2 separate regions of the Homo sapiens genome follow, and region 2 is linked to region 1. A link means that fine-mapping ties the variant in region 1 to the expression of a gene that starts in the linked region. Tissue or cell type: unexposed skin. Region 1 holds a variant in brackets; the other region holds the start of a gene. All regions are shown on one strand. Distances are between the middles of the regions.

What was found. PIP is the estimated chance that this variant, and not a neighbour inherited with it, causes the effect.
Region 2: it holds the start of IGSF3, and the variant in region 1 is fine-mapped to the expression of IGSF3 in unexposed skin (GTEx, PIP above 0.99). The same link has a PIP of 0.9 or more in esophagus mucosa.

The regions. Positions count from the first base shown.
Region 1 is chr1:116,617,874-116,625,976 of GRCh38, reverse strand. The region is part of intron 2 of IGSF3 (immunoglobulin superfamily member 3); the gene reads left to right. Among named protein-coding and RNA genes, the nearest start is that of IGSF3, 46 kb to the left of the region's middle. RefSeq lists an enhancer at 6,367-6,874. The variant T/C (reference allele first, on the strand shown) is at 4,008.
Region 2 is chr1:116,663,784-116,671,886 of GRCh38, reverse strand. It overlaps IGSF3 (immunoglobulin superfamily member 3), which reads left to right and starts at 4,154. Exons shown (of 11, transcript NM_001007237.3): 1 at 4,154-4,269; 2 at 4,931-5,603. The coding sequence starts at 5,561. MIR320B1 (microRNA 320b-1) reads right to left here and starts at 141; the gene lies at 70-141. RefSeq lists a silencer at 3,920-4,309.

The sequences.
Region 1 (8,103 bases):
AGCTAAATGTCTCAACCTAGGACAATCAGGCAGTCTAGTGACACAGCAGTGCAGACATCAGAGAGATCAGTCAGGTTGGGATGAAATGAATTACTGGGTTTGCAGTCCTTTTGGATGGTTCTGTAGCTGGCAGTTACATCTTCTTAGAAGTAGTATCAATAATTTAACATTCATTAATCATCATCTTTAGACCAGCTCTATTTTAGGTACCACTGGGGATTCAGATAAGAGAAAGAATGAAAGAGTGAATGAATGATATTTTTGTCCTTGGATTTAAAACCAGGCCAGGCCCTCATCTTGTCGCATTTGACTGTGAATTTGGTCTGTCTGCTTCCAGTCCTGCCCTCTGCTCTGTCCTCCACCTGCCACCAGAGTGATAATTCGAAAGCGTAAATCTGATCCGTCTTCTTCCTTACCTCTGTTAGGCTCTTTCTCAACTTCCCCAGTCCCAGAGGAGGTGTTTGACTTTATTAATGTGCCTTTCGGTGCCCTTTTCCGCCTGGCACTGATGTGCCCTCCAGTCATGTGACAAAACGACCTCCGCAAACTTCTTGCTAATCCTGGAATGCACTGCAGTGTTTTCACGTGGTATATATTTCCCTTGTGCTTTGGGACCCAATTCAGATGTCACTGCTTTTTTGAAGGCTTTTTGAATGCTTTCACTTTCTGAAAGGGCTTAACCTTGCACTTTGCACCTCACTGCTATTGTATACCATTAAAATGATTAGTTATGTGTATTTATTTTAGGATTGTCAGCTTAGGACAACTTGTCAACTATGTCTTATCAATCTCTCCCTCACAGTTTCTGTCCTAGTATCCATCATAATAGGTACTGAAAAAAATGTTGATTGAAGCCATAGCATATGTTCTTGTTACCTTTCTATGTAACAAATGTTTCCAAACCTCAGTGGCTTAAAACAACAATTTTGTTATGCTCACAGAATCTGTGGGTCGAGAATTTAGAGGCACAGCAGGCATGGCTGGAAGTTCCAAGGCTGGGGGCAGCTCACAGTGGAGGCTTGTTCACTCACATGGTGGCAGGTGGAGCTGGGTGCTGATTGGCTCATTCACTCACATTGTGGCAGGTGGACCTGGCTGGAGCCAGCTCTGGACTGGAGCACCTGCCCAGGGCCTCTCCATGTGCCTTGGGCCCCCTCACAGCATGGCCTCAGGACCGTTGGCTGTCTTATGTGGTGGTTCAGGACACCCTGAGTGAAATGGAAGCTACATCACTTTCCATGACCTAGGATTGGAAGCCACACAGTGACTTCCTGCCCAGATACACAGAGAAGGGAATTATTCTAAACTCCACCTCTTGATGGGAGTGTGTGGCATGGTCACATTGCAAAAGAGCATGTGGGAAGGAGATATTGTTACTGCTGTGTCTGGAGAATACAACCTGCCACGGTGTGTGGGAGAAATTAGTTCCACAGCTAGAGTTAATATCACTACTATTGCTACTACTGCAACTAGTGGCTAAACATTTATTGAGCACTTATTGTGTGCCAGGAATTAAGTTTTAAATGTAGCAACTCATTTAATCCTTCCATAACGCTGTGACAATTATACCACTTTACAGATGAGGAAACTGAGGTGCAGAGAGGTTAAGTAACCAGCCCAAGATCTCACAGCTACTGCCCATGCTGTGGGAAGTCAGTGAAGGCGAAGACTTAGGAATTCGATCCAAACTTTAGGTTTGCTGCTGGATTGTGACAGTGCATTTATCACATGGGAATTGATGGCTGTTTCAAGAGCCATTTTTTTTTTTTTTTTGAGACAAGATCTCGCTCTGTCACCCAGGCTGGAGTGCAGTGGCACAATCATTGTTCACGGCAGCCTCGGCCTCCCAGGCTCGAGGGATCCTCAGGGACCTTTTTTTTGTTTTTTTTTTAGATAGAGTCTTTCTCTGTTGCCCAGCCCACAGTGCAATGACATGATCTCGGCTCACTGCAACCTCCACCTGCTGGGTTCAAGCGATTCTCCTGCCTCAGCCTCCGGAGTAGCTGGGATTACAGGCGCACATCACCATGCTGGGCTAAATTTTTGTATTTTCAGTAGGGACAGGGTTTCACCATATTGGCCAGGCTGGTCTCGAACTCCTGACCTCAGGTGATCCACCTGCCTCGCCCTCCCAAAGTGCTGGGATTATAGGCATGAGCCACTGTGCCTGGCCTCAAGGGACATTTTTGATGAAAGTATGGATCCAGATAAGGTCCTTGCACCTGTGGGCTTGGGAAGCTGAACCTCGAGCTGTCCTGGTTTTATGGTTCCACTTGTGCCATCTGGACCTTGGTTAGACTGTCCCTTGATGGCAGTGACATTGACCGAATGGGCTGGAGTGCAGTGGTGCGATCTCGGCTTGCTGCAACCTCCATCTCCCAGGTTCAAGCAATTCTCCTGCCTCAGCCTCCTGATAGCGTGTGCCATCACACCCGGCTAATTTTTGTATTTTTAGTAGAGCTGGGGATTCACCATGTTGGCCAGGCTGGTCTCGAACCCCTAACCTCAAGTGATCCATCTGCCTTGGCCTCCCAAAGTGCTGGGATTACAGGCATGAGCCACCGTGCCTGGCCAGTGCAAGTGTGTTTAGCCAGCTTCATTTACTCCCTAACTCCTTGCCTCAGATTCTGCATCCGTAAAGTGAGGTCACTAGGAGTATTGACCTCAGAGGGCTGTTGCAAGGTTAAAGCTGGTTATACAAGCAGAGTACTTGGAACAGTGTCAGTTACCTGGCTGGGGCTCAGTAAGTGCTGGCTGTCCTTATTGGAAAGGTTCAAGTGTTGTGTTTTCCTGTCACCTGATCTGGAAAGAGGTCAAACAAAGGATCTTTTAGCCCATGCCACTTCCTGTCCTTCCTTGGCCGAAGGCTGACAGGTAAGAATCCCCAGAAGTTGTCACCGATGTGCCTGTGGAAGTGGCCTTCCCGATTGCTTTCTCTCTGGAGCCTTTAAGTTCCATGAAGCACTTAGTTGGCCTGGACTCCACCAATTCAGCATGCTGTGGCAGCTCAGTTCAGTTCCCATTTTTAACTTGGGACTGCATAGATTCCCCATCATTTCCTTTAGGACCAGGTGGGCAAGAAGATCCAGTCAGTGCTTTATTACTTCTCACTGATATTCACAGAGCACATTTAGTGTGAGCCATGGAATAAGAAAACTCTTAGTCACATTCTGTGTCATGAGAAGTTTACTTAACCTTGAAAACCATTTCCTTGTCTGGTAAATGTGGCTGTAATGAAATCGACCCCATTCACTGTTGTGAGGATTAAATGAGATGATGTATGCAGAGAAACTAGGACAGTGCCTGGGAAAGTGCTACTCATTATGATCATTTGTCTTCAGTTTAGAACAATATATACTTGCTTATTTAAAAAAAGGAGATAATAGAGAAAAGGTATTGAGAAAAATAGGAGAGGAGAAAATCACTCAAATTCTCACCATTCAGCGATTCAGCCCAGTATCATCAATGTTTTGTTTGGTTGTTTTTGTAGGTGTAGGATTTTTTTTTTTTAATGTAATTTTACTGCATATGCAGTTTTGCATTTTTTACCCAAACTTAATGTTCTTTTTAATGTTCTTGTACTTACAAAGATTTATCCTGTTTATATATTGATATCTCACCTTGGCAGAAATGAGATAAAATTTTAAAATATTCATTTGGTGGCTTTCACAGTATTATTTGATCTCTAGGGTCTCCTGTGAGTTTGCTACATGGTATGTTGTATTACTTTCATCTTATAGATGAAGAAAGATACTAGTGTGGCTGAGTCGCATGCAGAATTTGGAGGAGCATGGTGCTGAATGAGCTTTGATGATTGTAGAGGCCATAACTGGAAAAGTAGATGTAAAATGGTGAGGTCGATCCCTCTGACACTTTCACATGCTCAGTCACGCATCTTGAACATATAAGTTGGATCCTGTGCCTAGAGAGGTAGGTTTCTGAGCCAAGGCATATTCCAAAAATTGCATGAGAAGCTGGCTTTCCCAGACACAGTGACCCCTCCCTGC[T/C]CACTAACTCCTGAGTCATACCTCCTGCCCCTAGCCAGGTTTATCTAGGACTTGAGCACAAAGAAAAAGTGGGAGCATCTTTGAACAAGAAATATCTTGAAAAACTAGTTAAGTGGTATCATGTATTTGTGGGATGGGTGATTTCAAAACCCAATCTAAAAGGACAGGACCTTGCTCATTGACAATTTATTGTCTGATGCAATGTTTCTTAATCTTTTTGGGTCTTGAATTCCTTTGAGAATCTTTTGAAGTTTATGGACTCTTTTCCCAGAAGAACACACTCATGTGTATGTAACACAATTTTGCATTCAATCTTAGGGACTGCAGGTGTCTACATTAGTTATATATTGATGTAAAAAAAAAAGCCCCAAACTTAAGGCTTAAAGGAACAATAGATGTTTATTATCTCACAGTTTCTGTGGTTCAGAAAGTCAGTAACATCTTAACTGGATACTTCTGACTCGGAGTCTCCCAGGAGGTTGCAGTCAAGATGTTGTTGGGGGGAAAGGGGCAGGTTCAGTGGCTCATGCCTGTGATCCCTACACTCTGGGAAGCAAAGCCAGGAGGATTACTTGAGCCCAGGAGTTTGAGACCAGCCTGGGCAACACAGTGAGACCCTATGTATTAGTCAGTTCTCACATTGCTATAAATACATGAGACTGGAGAATTTATAAAGAAAAGAGGTTTAATTGTCTCACAGTTCCACAGGCTGTTCAGGGAGCATAATGCTGGCATCTGCTCGGCTTCTGGGGCAACCACAGGAAACTTTCAATCATGGTGGAAGGTGAAGGGGAAGCAGGCGCGCCTTACGTGGCCAAAGCAGGAGCAAGAGAGAGAGGGGGGAGGTGCCACACACTTTTAAACAATTAGATACTGTGAGAACTCTAACAAGCACAGCACCAAAAGGGTGAAGCTAAATCATTCATGAAAGATCCATTCCTGTGATCCGGTCACCTCCCACCAGGCCCCACCTCTAACATTGGGGATTATAATTGAACATGAGATTTAGGTGGGTACAGAGACCCCAACCATATCATCCCGTCTCTATAAGAAATAAAAAATTTAGCCAGGCATGGTGGTGTGTGCTGGTGGTCCCAGATACTCAGGAGGCTGATGTGGGAGGATCACTTGAGCCTCGGAGGTCAAGGCTGCAGTGAGCTATGATTGCACCACTGCACTCTAGCCTGGGTGACAGAGTGAGACCCTGTCTCAACAACAACAAAAAGATGCCTGGGGTTGACATTATCTGAAGGCTTGACTGAGTTGACTGTGGCTGGAGAATCTACTTCCAGTCACATGCTAGCAAGTTAGTGCTAGCTGTTGGCAGGAGGCCTCATGTGGTCTTCCCCATATGGCTGCTTTGATGTCCTCATAACATCATGCTTGTCTTTTTATGACCTAGCCCTGGAAGTCACATTCCACCATTTGTGCATTTCCTATTGGTCACGTAGGTCAGTCCTATTTAGTGCATAGGGCAAGGTCTGAGAGGGGAGTAGTGCTGACTGCCCATGCCCTCTCCTGGTGCACGCCGCTTCCAGCACCCAGAAGCTCTCCTAACTCCATTATTTAGGGTTTTCATATGGGATTTCATTACATGGGTATGACTGATCAAATCACTGACCAATGCTGATTGGATCAATCTGCAGTCCCCTTCTTGTCCTTGGAGGTCTAAGGCTGGGGCGGAAAACTCCACAACTCTAAGCGTGGCCAGCTCCTTCCTTGAAACTGCCTCCGTGCTCACCTTCAGTCACCTCGTTAGCATAAACTCTGGGATGGCCAAAAGGGGCTTCTTATAAATAACAAAAGGTACTCCCATTGCTTAGGAAGTTCCAAGGGGTTTAGGAGCTCAGTGCCAGGAACTGGGGACAAAGACCAAATATGTATATATATATAAATACTACAGTAGTGAATTTTATATAGCAAACATGCATTATTTTTATTTTTGGCTAAAATTTTTTTCTAGTTATAAAACTGGTACATACTCATTGCAGAGGACTGGGGGAAGGAGTAAAATATTAAGAAAAAAATAAAAATCACTTGCCATCCTGTCACCTAGTATTTTCTTTCTAGTTCTTTTCATGCAGTTATATATAACATTTTGATCTTTCTTTCTATGTTACAGAAGTCATATTTGCTTATTGCAGAGTAATCCAAAGAGTACAGAATGTCTAAAGTTAAAAAAGTTATTTAAAAAAAAAAGATCCTTGCCTGGGAGGAACTTTCTATTGTAGGTTGGGAGGGGAGAGAGAGGGGCTGTGGGTCAGAGGATGCCCTGGTCAGGTTTGGGAGCCTGTGTCTCTTTGGAGGCAGCAGAGGTCTGCACAGCAGGGTATTACTATTATAGGGGAATGGTGGGGTGGGATGTGTGGAAGGGGAATTAAACTGCCAAGAAGAAAACAATTATTTTTATGTTGAGAAGCATTATTTTCAGGGGTCAGAAGCCCTTTGTGGGGCAGAGGGAAATTAAGGAGGTATTTAATAAACAGGTGCAGCTGAATGTGTGTGGTTAAAGTGCAATCCAGTAGTTATTTGTCTGGATTGTTTATAACCTGCTTCCAGCCTAGACAAGTTGATTTGACCCTGCTGTCCTGGCTCATTCAGGCCACTTAACACTGTTTACCATTGGGTGGGGAGGACGTGCATGATCCGCTGGCCGAGTGCCTTTGTAAGGTCTGTAAATAGGATGCATTCTGGTTAAACTCGTTATTGCCTCACAAATGCTAGTATCTGATGGGTCTCAGATGTTTTCTTTTGCACTGGGGAAGACTGGAGGAGAATGAAGCTTTCTTGAACCAGTGATTGGGTCTCTACCAAAGAGAGAAACTTAAAGCTAGTGAGAGCCTTAAGATATTTCATTTGAGCACTTGGCTGGCACCATGTAGGTAGAGACACTTTAAAGTAACAGTGCTTTGCTACACCTGATTTGAATCATCTGTGGAGCTTCAAAAAAAAATCCTAATTAATCCTAAGACCAGTTATGTCAGGTGGGGTCCAGGCACTGTTAGTTCTTTAAAGCTCCCCAGGTGATTCCAGTGTAGGTCCAGGATTGAGAAGCAGTCCTTAAAGATGCTGGTGTACCCTGACTTGCCTCTAGCCTTCTTTGCAGGAGATGTATGGGGGTTGGTTGTAGTTGCGCTGTCATAGAACACCGCAATTCAAAGGATACCTAATGTTATGAATGTAGTTAAATTGTTTGCAAAATGTTCTGTGTTTCAGGAATACTGCAATCATTTGATTAAAATGTCACCATATTTGTGTGTGTATACAGTCATGGGTCACTTAATGATGGGGACATGTTTTAAGAAGTGCATCATTCGGCAATTTCATTCTTGTGTGGACATCATAGGGTGTACTTCAACAAACCTAGATGGGATATATATTTTCATTTATATATTTTATTATGGAAAATGAAATGTCCCAGCACTGTTACTGAATATCAGTCATTTCCCCTACTTGATCTGCCATGCCAACATTAAGTGCCATATATTAGATCTCTATATATGCTCCATTATAATCTTACAGGATCACTGTTGCACATGTGTTTCCTCATTGATTGAAATGTTATTCAGTGCATGACTGTACATATAGTAAAAATGTTATGCATCATATTTTAACATACTGATATTACTAATGAGTTGTCCTCATGGTTACTTTAAATATCATAATTAATGCCATCAACCAGAATATATCAAATAAATTCAGATACCACTTGTTCTGTTTATTTCCTTCCCCTGCCAATTTTGTATTTTTCCTGATTCTGCTGAAGCCAAGATGGGGTTCTGTGTAAGATTTTGTTTGTGAGGAAAGGTTCTGCATGAATTAAAGTTTTGCAAGCCATGGGCATTTCATTGTATGGGCCGTTTTTGAGGTCTGTCATCTTGCAGATTAGATTAGCTTACACTGAGGCACAGTCCCCTGCTGGGCTGGGCAGAGAGCTGCACTCCACTAGTATTGAGCTGTCCCGGCTGTTCACCAGCTGGATCCACTTCAGATAGGCATAGCCGGGGCAGCCGCCATTCCCATTTGTGGGGGAAAAGGGAAGCTATCACAAGAATGGGCTGCAGCTGTGGGAGGAGGTGGGCAGCCCAGCGATGGT
Region 2 (8,103 bases), 46 kb before region 1:
GGCCATATCTTATCCACGAAAAAATTTTGTGTTGGCCCCCCCAAAGTGTTTAATTAGTTAATTAATTAGTTAATTTGTTTGCCCTCTCAACCCAGCTTTTCCTCACTCTAGGAAGAACTAGAAAGAGAGGGATTAATTTATTTTTGAAACACTAGTTTCCAATGAGCAAAATTAAGAATAATTTTTTTTTAATGTGGATTTCCTGATTCTCTTAAAAAGTAGGAAAATCAGGCAACACCACACCTTCCTTCCCAGCAGCAACACTTTGCTGAAGCTGTGCGTGCTCTTTCAGGCTGTGCTCTGGGTGCACAGGCCCCAGTACTCCCTGGCACTGTGCTTCAGCTCGGCTTCTGCAGGCTTCTGCATTTAACTCCCTGATGGACAAGATCAAGGAGTCTTCCAAAATGTCCAAAATAAACAACTGATTCCAGGCCGGTGCAGTAGAGGTTTCAAAATTCAAATGCAGAATGTTTTGAAGCAAGCTGGAATGTTCAGCCCGGGCACCAGACATTGCTGACTGGGGACTTCGGTGCACTCCTCTCCTTTGACATCTCTCCTTCCCTTAGGACTCTCTCTTTCTCTCTCTCTCTCTCTCTTTCTTTCTTTCTTTCTCTCTCTCTTTCTTTCTTTTCTTTCTTTCTCCTTCCTTCCTTCCTTCCTTCCTTCCTTCCTTCCTTCCTTCCTTCCTTCCTTCCTTCTCTCCCTCCCTCCCTTCCTTCCTTCCTTTCTTTCTCTCTGTCTTTCTTTCTGACAGAGTTTCGCTCTTGTTGCCCAGGCTGGAGCTTGTTGCCCAGGCTGGAGTGCAATGGCACGATCTTGGCTCACTGCAACCTCTTCCTCCCGGGTTCAAGAGACTCTCCTGCCTCAGCCTCCTGAGTAGCTGGGATTACAGGCATGCACCACCATGGCCGGCTAATTTTTTGTATTTTTAGTACAGACAGGGTTTCTCTATGTTGGTCAGGCTGGTCTTGAACTCCCAATCTCAGGTGATCTGCCCACCTCAGCTACCCAAAGTGCTGGGATTATAGGGGTGAGCCACTGTACCCAGCCTCCAATTCACTTCTCTGCCTGCTGATGAACTCCTGAAGGGGCCACCATCACATCACTGTTCAGGACTCATTTAATCGTTTCTATGTCTGGAGGGCAGAGGCATTCTTTTAAATTATACTTTTGTCTCCCCATCCAACACTTTGCACAGTTCTTTGCATATCGTAGATGTGGAAATTAGAAAGAATGCCATGCTGGGAATCAGCCATAACACATCTGGGTGGTGATGGAAGTCAAGGGTTGAAAGATCATCCAGAAGGATGCAAGGGGCCAAGTAGTATGAAGAGGGGCAGGTTGAGATTGAAAGAACGAGTAATAGAGAAGGGATAATTGAGTATAGGGGTTCAAGGATGAAGGCCTAGGCAGAGGCCTCAGAAAGTACAGTCTTGCACCTTGATGGGGGTACACCTTGGTGGGGGTCAGAGAGTTCCAAAGCAGGCTGAGATGCCCCTTCTGGAAGATTCCTTGACTCTTCTCTTTCTCTCCCCCTCCATATTCAGTTCTTCAGAGAATTTCATTGACTCTGCTTTCTAAATGCTTTCAGACTCCACCCATTTCCACAACCTGCATCAGCACCACCCTAGTTTAAGCTGTGATCATCTCTCACCTGCGCAATGGAAAGAACCTCCCATCCAGTGTCCCTTGTCCACCCCTACCATCTGATGCTCTATTCTTACCCAGCAGCCAGAGTGAGCCAAGCTCCTCAGGTTAGAAGGTCCTACTAGATTTGGCCTCTTTGACCTCTCTGATCACATTCCTCCTTCTCCTTCTGTTTTATGCCATTTCAGACACACTAACACACCTTTAATTTTCTGAACATGTTATGGGGCTTTGCACTTGCTGTTCCCTGCACTTGGAATCTTCTTACTCCAGAAATCTCCAGCGCTCACACACTCCCTGTAATCAGGTCTCGCTCAAATGTCACTTCCTCTGAGGGGTCTTTTCTGACCACCTCACCTAGCAAAGAGTCCTTCTTCCCACTGGAACCCCCAAACATACACACTATTTCTTTTCCTTTCTGTTTTTTATTTGTTTGTTTGTTTGTTTTGGAGATACTCTCGCTCTGTTGCCCAGGCTGGACTGCAGTGGTGTGATCTCAGCTCGTTGCAACCTCTGCCTCCCAGGTTCAAGCGATTCTCATGCCTCAGCCTCCCAAGTAGCTGGGACCACAAGTGTGCACCACCACGGCTGGCTAATTTTTGTATTTTTTGTAGAGACAGGGTTTCGCCATGTTGGCCAGGCTGGTCTCGAACTCCTGACATCAAGTGATCCCCCTGCCTTGGCCTCCCAAGGTGCTGGGATTATAGGCATGAGCCACTGTGCCCGCCCACACATTTCTATACTCCACTTTTCTTCAGAACACGTTACATTATATTATATACTTGTTTCATTGTCTGTGTTTCCCACCAGAATGTAAGCTTCATGAGAGCAGAGACTTTTCTTAACACGTAGTAGGTGCTCAATAAATAAATGAAGGAGTCTAGCAAATGGGAACTGAGAGCTGCCAGAGTCACGGGTGTCTCTGGGAAAGAGGTAATAATTAACACACAAGGAAAGATTCCTGGTTGGGCACAGTAGCTCATGCCTGTAATCTCTGCACTTTGGGAGGCTGAGGCGGGCAGATCACCAGGTCAGGAGTTCAACACCAGGCTGCCCAACATGGTGAAACACTGTCTCTACTAAAAGTACAAAAATTATCCGGGTGTGGTGGTGCACGCCTGTAGTCCCAGTGACTCAGGAGGCTGAGGCAGGAGAATCACTTGAACCCGGGAGGTGGAGGTTGCAGTGAGACAAGATTACACCACTGCATTCCAGCCTGGGTCACAGAGTGAGAACCTGTCTCTTAAAATAAAATGAAAAATAAAACGTATATCTGATAACCATAGTCCCTTACTCAACACCTTCAGTGGCTTCCCAATGGTCCCAACCCCTTAACACACCATACAATGCCCTCTAGGTTCTGGCACTCGATTTCTTCTCAGCTCATTTCTTGTCACTTCTCTCCTACAGTCAAGTTTGGGCCCAGCAGACTGTCCTGGTCCTCTAACTGGGCTCCTTTCTGGGCCTGCAGAGGTGCTGTTTCTTCAGTCTGCGATTCCTTACCTCCCCTCTGTCTCTTCCTCTGCTGCTGCCTTCTGTTCTTTGGCATTCAACCGAGTTTTCCTTTCCTCTGAGAAGCCTGGGACCTACCCCGACCAAAGCTCCCTCCTCCTTGCCCCTCCCCCAATAACACAGGGTTGGGGTCTCTGCATTTGCTTCCTCAACACTGTACTTTTCTTGTCATGTCTATTTTATGGTCTGTGTCCCCACTAGACTGCAAGTTGCATGAGGGCAGGGCGGTCTATTCTGCTTTGGTCGCCTCGTGACGGTGTCTACCCAGCAAGTTGTGTGTGTTGGGTAAGTAGTGAGAAAACGAAAAAGCACTTGCTTTACAGGGCGGTTGGTCATAAAATAATAATAGCTTATATTTACTGACCACTTGTGATGTATCAGGCACCATTCTAAATGCTTTACAAGTATGTCACAGATTTCTCCCATAACCCTCTTAAGTAAGGGTTATTTCCTCCACATAGCAGATGGGGAAATTGAGGCACAGAGAGGTTAAGTAACTTGCCAAGGGCCACAGCGAGGAAGTGGAGGAACCGGCGTTAGAACCCAGGCTGTTTCCAGAGTCCAAATTCTATCCAAGAGTGAAGTGCAATATGGGGTTCCACTTCGTGAACAGATTCAAGTCTCCAAAGGGCTTTGTTTTTGTTTCCAGGAGGAAGGACGAGCTTCTGTGCCGCCGGCTTCCCAGGTTATGGGTGGCCAGCTGGGCTTTGGGAAGGGCCTGTACATCTCGCCGGCGGCCCCGGAGTCTGGGTGTGAAGCCCTGATTAACTTGCCGGGCTGCTCGGCCCACACGCCAGCCCTGCCCAGGTCCTCCGGTGCCCCGGGCCACCCTCATGCCCCCGCCAGGCCCGGGGCCGGGACTCGCGTCTCCAGGGGCGGGGCCGGGGGCGGGGCCGGGCCTCTCTTCGAGGCCGCCGCCCTGGCCCCGCGCTCGCCTCGCCGAGTGCGGCGGGCCGGGCTGGAGCTGGAGGGGCGGGGACTCGGGAGGGGCCGCAGCGCGGCTGCTGGTGCCGTTGCGGGAGAAGAGGAAGCGGCGCGTCCCCTGAGGCGTGCGCCTGGATGGACTGAAGGACGGTCCGACGCGCGCGGAGGGAGAGGGCCAGGGGCGAGGTCAGGCTCGGCGGGGGCGCGGGCGGCGCCCGGAGGGGGCCCCGGGGAGGGAGGCGGGGAGGCGTGGAGCGGGGAGCGGGGAGCGGGGAGTGGGGAGCGGGCCCGCGCCGGCTGAGCTCCGGGTCGGGCCCGAGACCCCTCCCCTGGCTGGGCGGGCGCGCTGCGAGCGCGCTCCGGCAGCTGAAAGCGGAGCTCCGGACTCCCTTCTTCCCCGGTTTCTTTTCTTTCCAATCAGCGAGATATAAACACCCTGCAAGGTAAAACAATAGCGGGGCCACCTGGGACGCGTCGCGCGCAGAGCTCCCACGGTTGGGGCGGGGGCCGGGAGTCGCGGCCCCACCGCGGAGCCCCTTCCCGATTTGCCCTGGCGGAGGGTGGGGCTACCTGCGGCGCCCGGGCTCGGTAGGAGGTGACGGGAATTCCCAGGAGTGAAGCATTTGGTGGAAGTATTTCAGGAACAATCGGGCTTCCCACTGTTGCCCTGCTCTGGGCAGGGAAACTGAGGCGGAGGGAAAGACAGAGACTTGCCCAAGGTCAGAATGCAGAGGTTGACTGTCCTGGTCCAGGAACCGGACCCAGGTGTCCGGACCAGCTCAGCGCTCAGCCCCAGTGGGTTTTGCAGCTTTGCCTTTGATAAAAATCTCTGTTGTGTTTGTTTTAGAAATCTGCTCGCGCTGGGGTACCGCTTCAGGGCTGCCGAACGCCAACTTGCTTCGTGTGCCCTAGGCAGGCGTGGGGCAGGTGGCGCCTCCGTGACCTACCACCATGGATGGAAACGGACTTTTTGGTGAAGAAACCCAAACGGTTGATGCCAGGCAGGGTGATTTGGCCGTCAAAGGTTTTGACGAAACCTGCCCTGTTCTCTCTGGGGAATCCGAATGAGGGAGATCACAGACACCTTCACTGAGAAGCCAAGGACATTTCTGTATAATCAGTGGATGAAAGGATTTTCTCAGACCCTTTTTTCCGTGCTTCTGGAGGATTAATCCACTACAGTCTGCAATTTCAGTGGAAACTGCAAGGCACACGATGTGGCAGGAGCCGGGAGCGACTTCCGAATTGTTGTGGACCCTTCCTGTAGCATAGGGGAGTTTTCACACTTGCCTCCACTCCTCCCCTTCCCCCCAACTCCCTCCTTCTGATCTCTTCTTTTTAATCTGTTCCCATTTTCCGAGTTAAGTTCTATTTCCAAAACTGTTCTCTGGAGCTATAAGTGGATTGCCAGAAATGAGAGATTAGGAGCTGGGAGAAGAGGAAGCGCCTTGTGTTGTGTCTCCTGGAGGCTGCCGACATGAAGTGCTTTTTCCCGGTGCTGAGCTGTCTGGCTGTGCTGGGTAAGTGGCTCTGCTTATCAGTGCAATCGATGTGAAAGTTTAACCTGCTCTTGGTTCCTGTAATTTCTCGTGGTTCTTTTTCATCAACACTAGGATTTGGGGGACACCAGGAGGCGGTCGGTGTGTGTCACAGGTTGGAGTAGAGTACGAAGAGGCCCGTTTCTAACCCAAGAGCAACGGTGGAATATCATTTGTTATCTATAAGAAGGAACATTTGCTGTTCTTAAAGTGTCTGTCTTGGCCCCTGGGGTGAGGTCCTGCATCTGCACATCTGTGGTTTAGGGACTTCACATGGCTGGTGGGCTGCTGTCTTGTAGCATGTCAAACATGGATGCTCTGGTGTTTTCACTTCTTTGTTGGGCTGCATTGATTCCTAATTGGGAGTGGGAACATCATTCCCCTCTGTCTCGAAAGTTGGTTTGGGTGATAATGATGGTGCCTTTTTTGAGGTGGAAATGGGAGTAAGTGGGATGGGGGTTGAAGGGATGCTTTGCCTACCTGAGTGGTCTGAAGGCTAAAAATGTGAGGGCACTAGTCCTGTGTCTCCTCACCAAGGAAGCTTAGATCGTAGTTCTGGGAGAAGGAGAGCCTGAAGAAAAGGAAGCTGCCTGGTAGGGGAGATTTTAGGATTGGCTTTTGTGCTCCCACAAATCAGAATGCCTAGAGTGGGAAGAAGAAACTATGGCCCTGAGAGGTGAACCTTTGACACCCCTCTTAAGGTGCAGATGCAGGACCTTCACCCCAGTGAAGAGGCCCCTCTGCTCAACAATTGCCTATTCTTTTTATGCCATTGAGCACTGTCTTCAGCGTGCTGTCTTAGAACACATCTCAGGTCTAGGATAAACTTCATTGCCAGGATTTGGTGCCATTCTCTTTCCCCATCTCAGACCTCATACATGAGCACACCCCCTGCCCTCTCTGTAAGGCTCGGTCCTCTGCATTCAGAAGGGATTATGATTGTTGCCTACAGGGTTCACGTCTCCAAATCTAGGTGTCTTGCACGTAGGGAACTTAGGGTGATCTGTTGGCAGTGGAGATTGCTTCCATGCATTGTCTACACCCTTGCAGTAGGTAACAGGTGTGTGGGAAGAGAATGGACTTTAGAATTAGAGGACCTGAGTTCCTATCCCAGCTTCACCATGATTGACATCTGAATGTCAATAAAACAGAAACAATAAAACAAGGGAAGGTGTGATAACTAAAGGATATAAGGTGTCCTAAATGCCTTGACTGCCTTAAATAATGTCTGAAACTCATAATAGATTTGTGCAATCAGTGGTTCTCAAACTCTCGTGTGCATGTTGGAATCACTGGGGAAGCTTTTAAAAATTCTGATTTCAGGCAACAACCCCAGATCAGTGAAACCAAACTCGCTTAGGGAGTGGGACCCAGGTCTCAGCCTTTGAGCTATCTCAGGTAATTCCATGCATGGTTCAGTAGAGAACCAGTGGGTGAGTTCACTAGCGCCAGTGCCCTACCACCCAACGCATGCAGACACCCTGCTGGTAGTTTAGTTAGTCTTCTGTTCAGCTGTGGGCTGGGATACAGGCAGTGTCTCCATGTCACCTGTATGCTCAGGCAGAGTCAAGAAGGCAGGGAGCCCTTCATTTGCCAGTCTCTTCATATTGGATCTGTATTTGTTGTACTGTATGTGTCATTCGCTTAGTGTCTGGGTTTAAATCAGCAATTAGTGATTCATGTGGATTCAACAGGACACAAACAAGGAAAGCCCTTGGGGAGGTTTGGATGTGGGGTGGGGTGTGTGGCTAAGGCGGGAAAGAGGGCTGAGTGGCAGGGTGGGGCCCAGGGCAGGAGAAGTAACCATCAATGGGAAAACAAGGCAATGTGACATTTGTGCCTTTTGTTTCTTCTGGCTGCTCAAGTAATGTAAGGCTGCATGCTGGTCCCCCTGCTGTTCGCTCTCTGGGCCACTCTGTGGAGTGGAGCTCGGGCCCTGGCACCTGGCAGGTGCTGTCATTTTCCCTCCACCCTCATCTTCATGTGTAAACAGGTGCCATGGAGGAAAATGAGCATCAAGGTGGCTTTAAAGGGGCACAGTGGCAGACATCCAGATGCAGGCTGAAGTGGGAAGGTTTGGAACTGTAGGCATGCATGTGGATCTCTGCCTGATTTGGAGCCCCACTGGTGGAACCTCATCTTTCTCTTCACCTGATGGCTCTCAGTATGGCAGGAAGGAGGCCTGGCTACTACTTTACTAATCTGGGAGAGGTAGAAGGCGTTTGGGGAGGGAGCAAAACCCATGTTGGGGTCTTATTTCCTGCTTGTCTTCTGATGTGGTCTGGTTCATGTGTCAGCATTCTTGCTGCATAATGTGAATTAATGTGTAGTATGAATTTAAAACAGCGAAGAATCCCAAGGTTTTAAGCCCATATAGGTCACATGCCTGGAATAAAATTTTGTTTAAAAAAGTTGGATAAGGCTAAGTGCTCTGAAAGTGAGACCGATGCAGGTACCAGCCTCTAGAAATGGCAATTTTAGT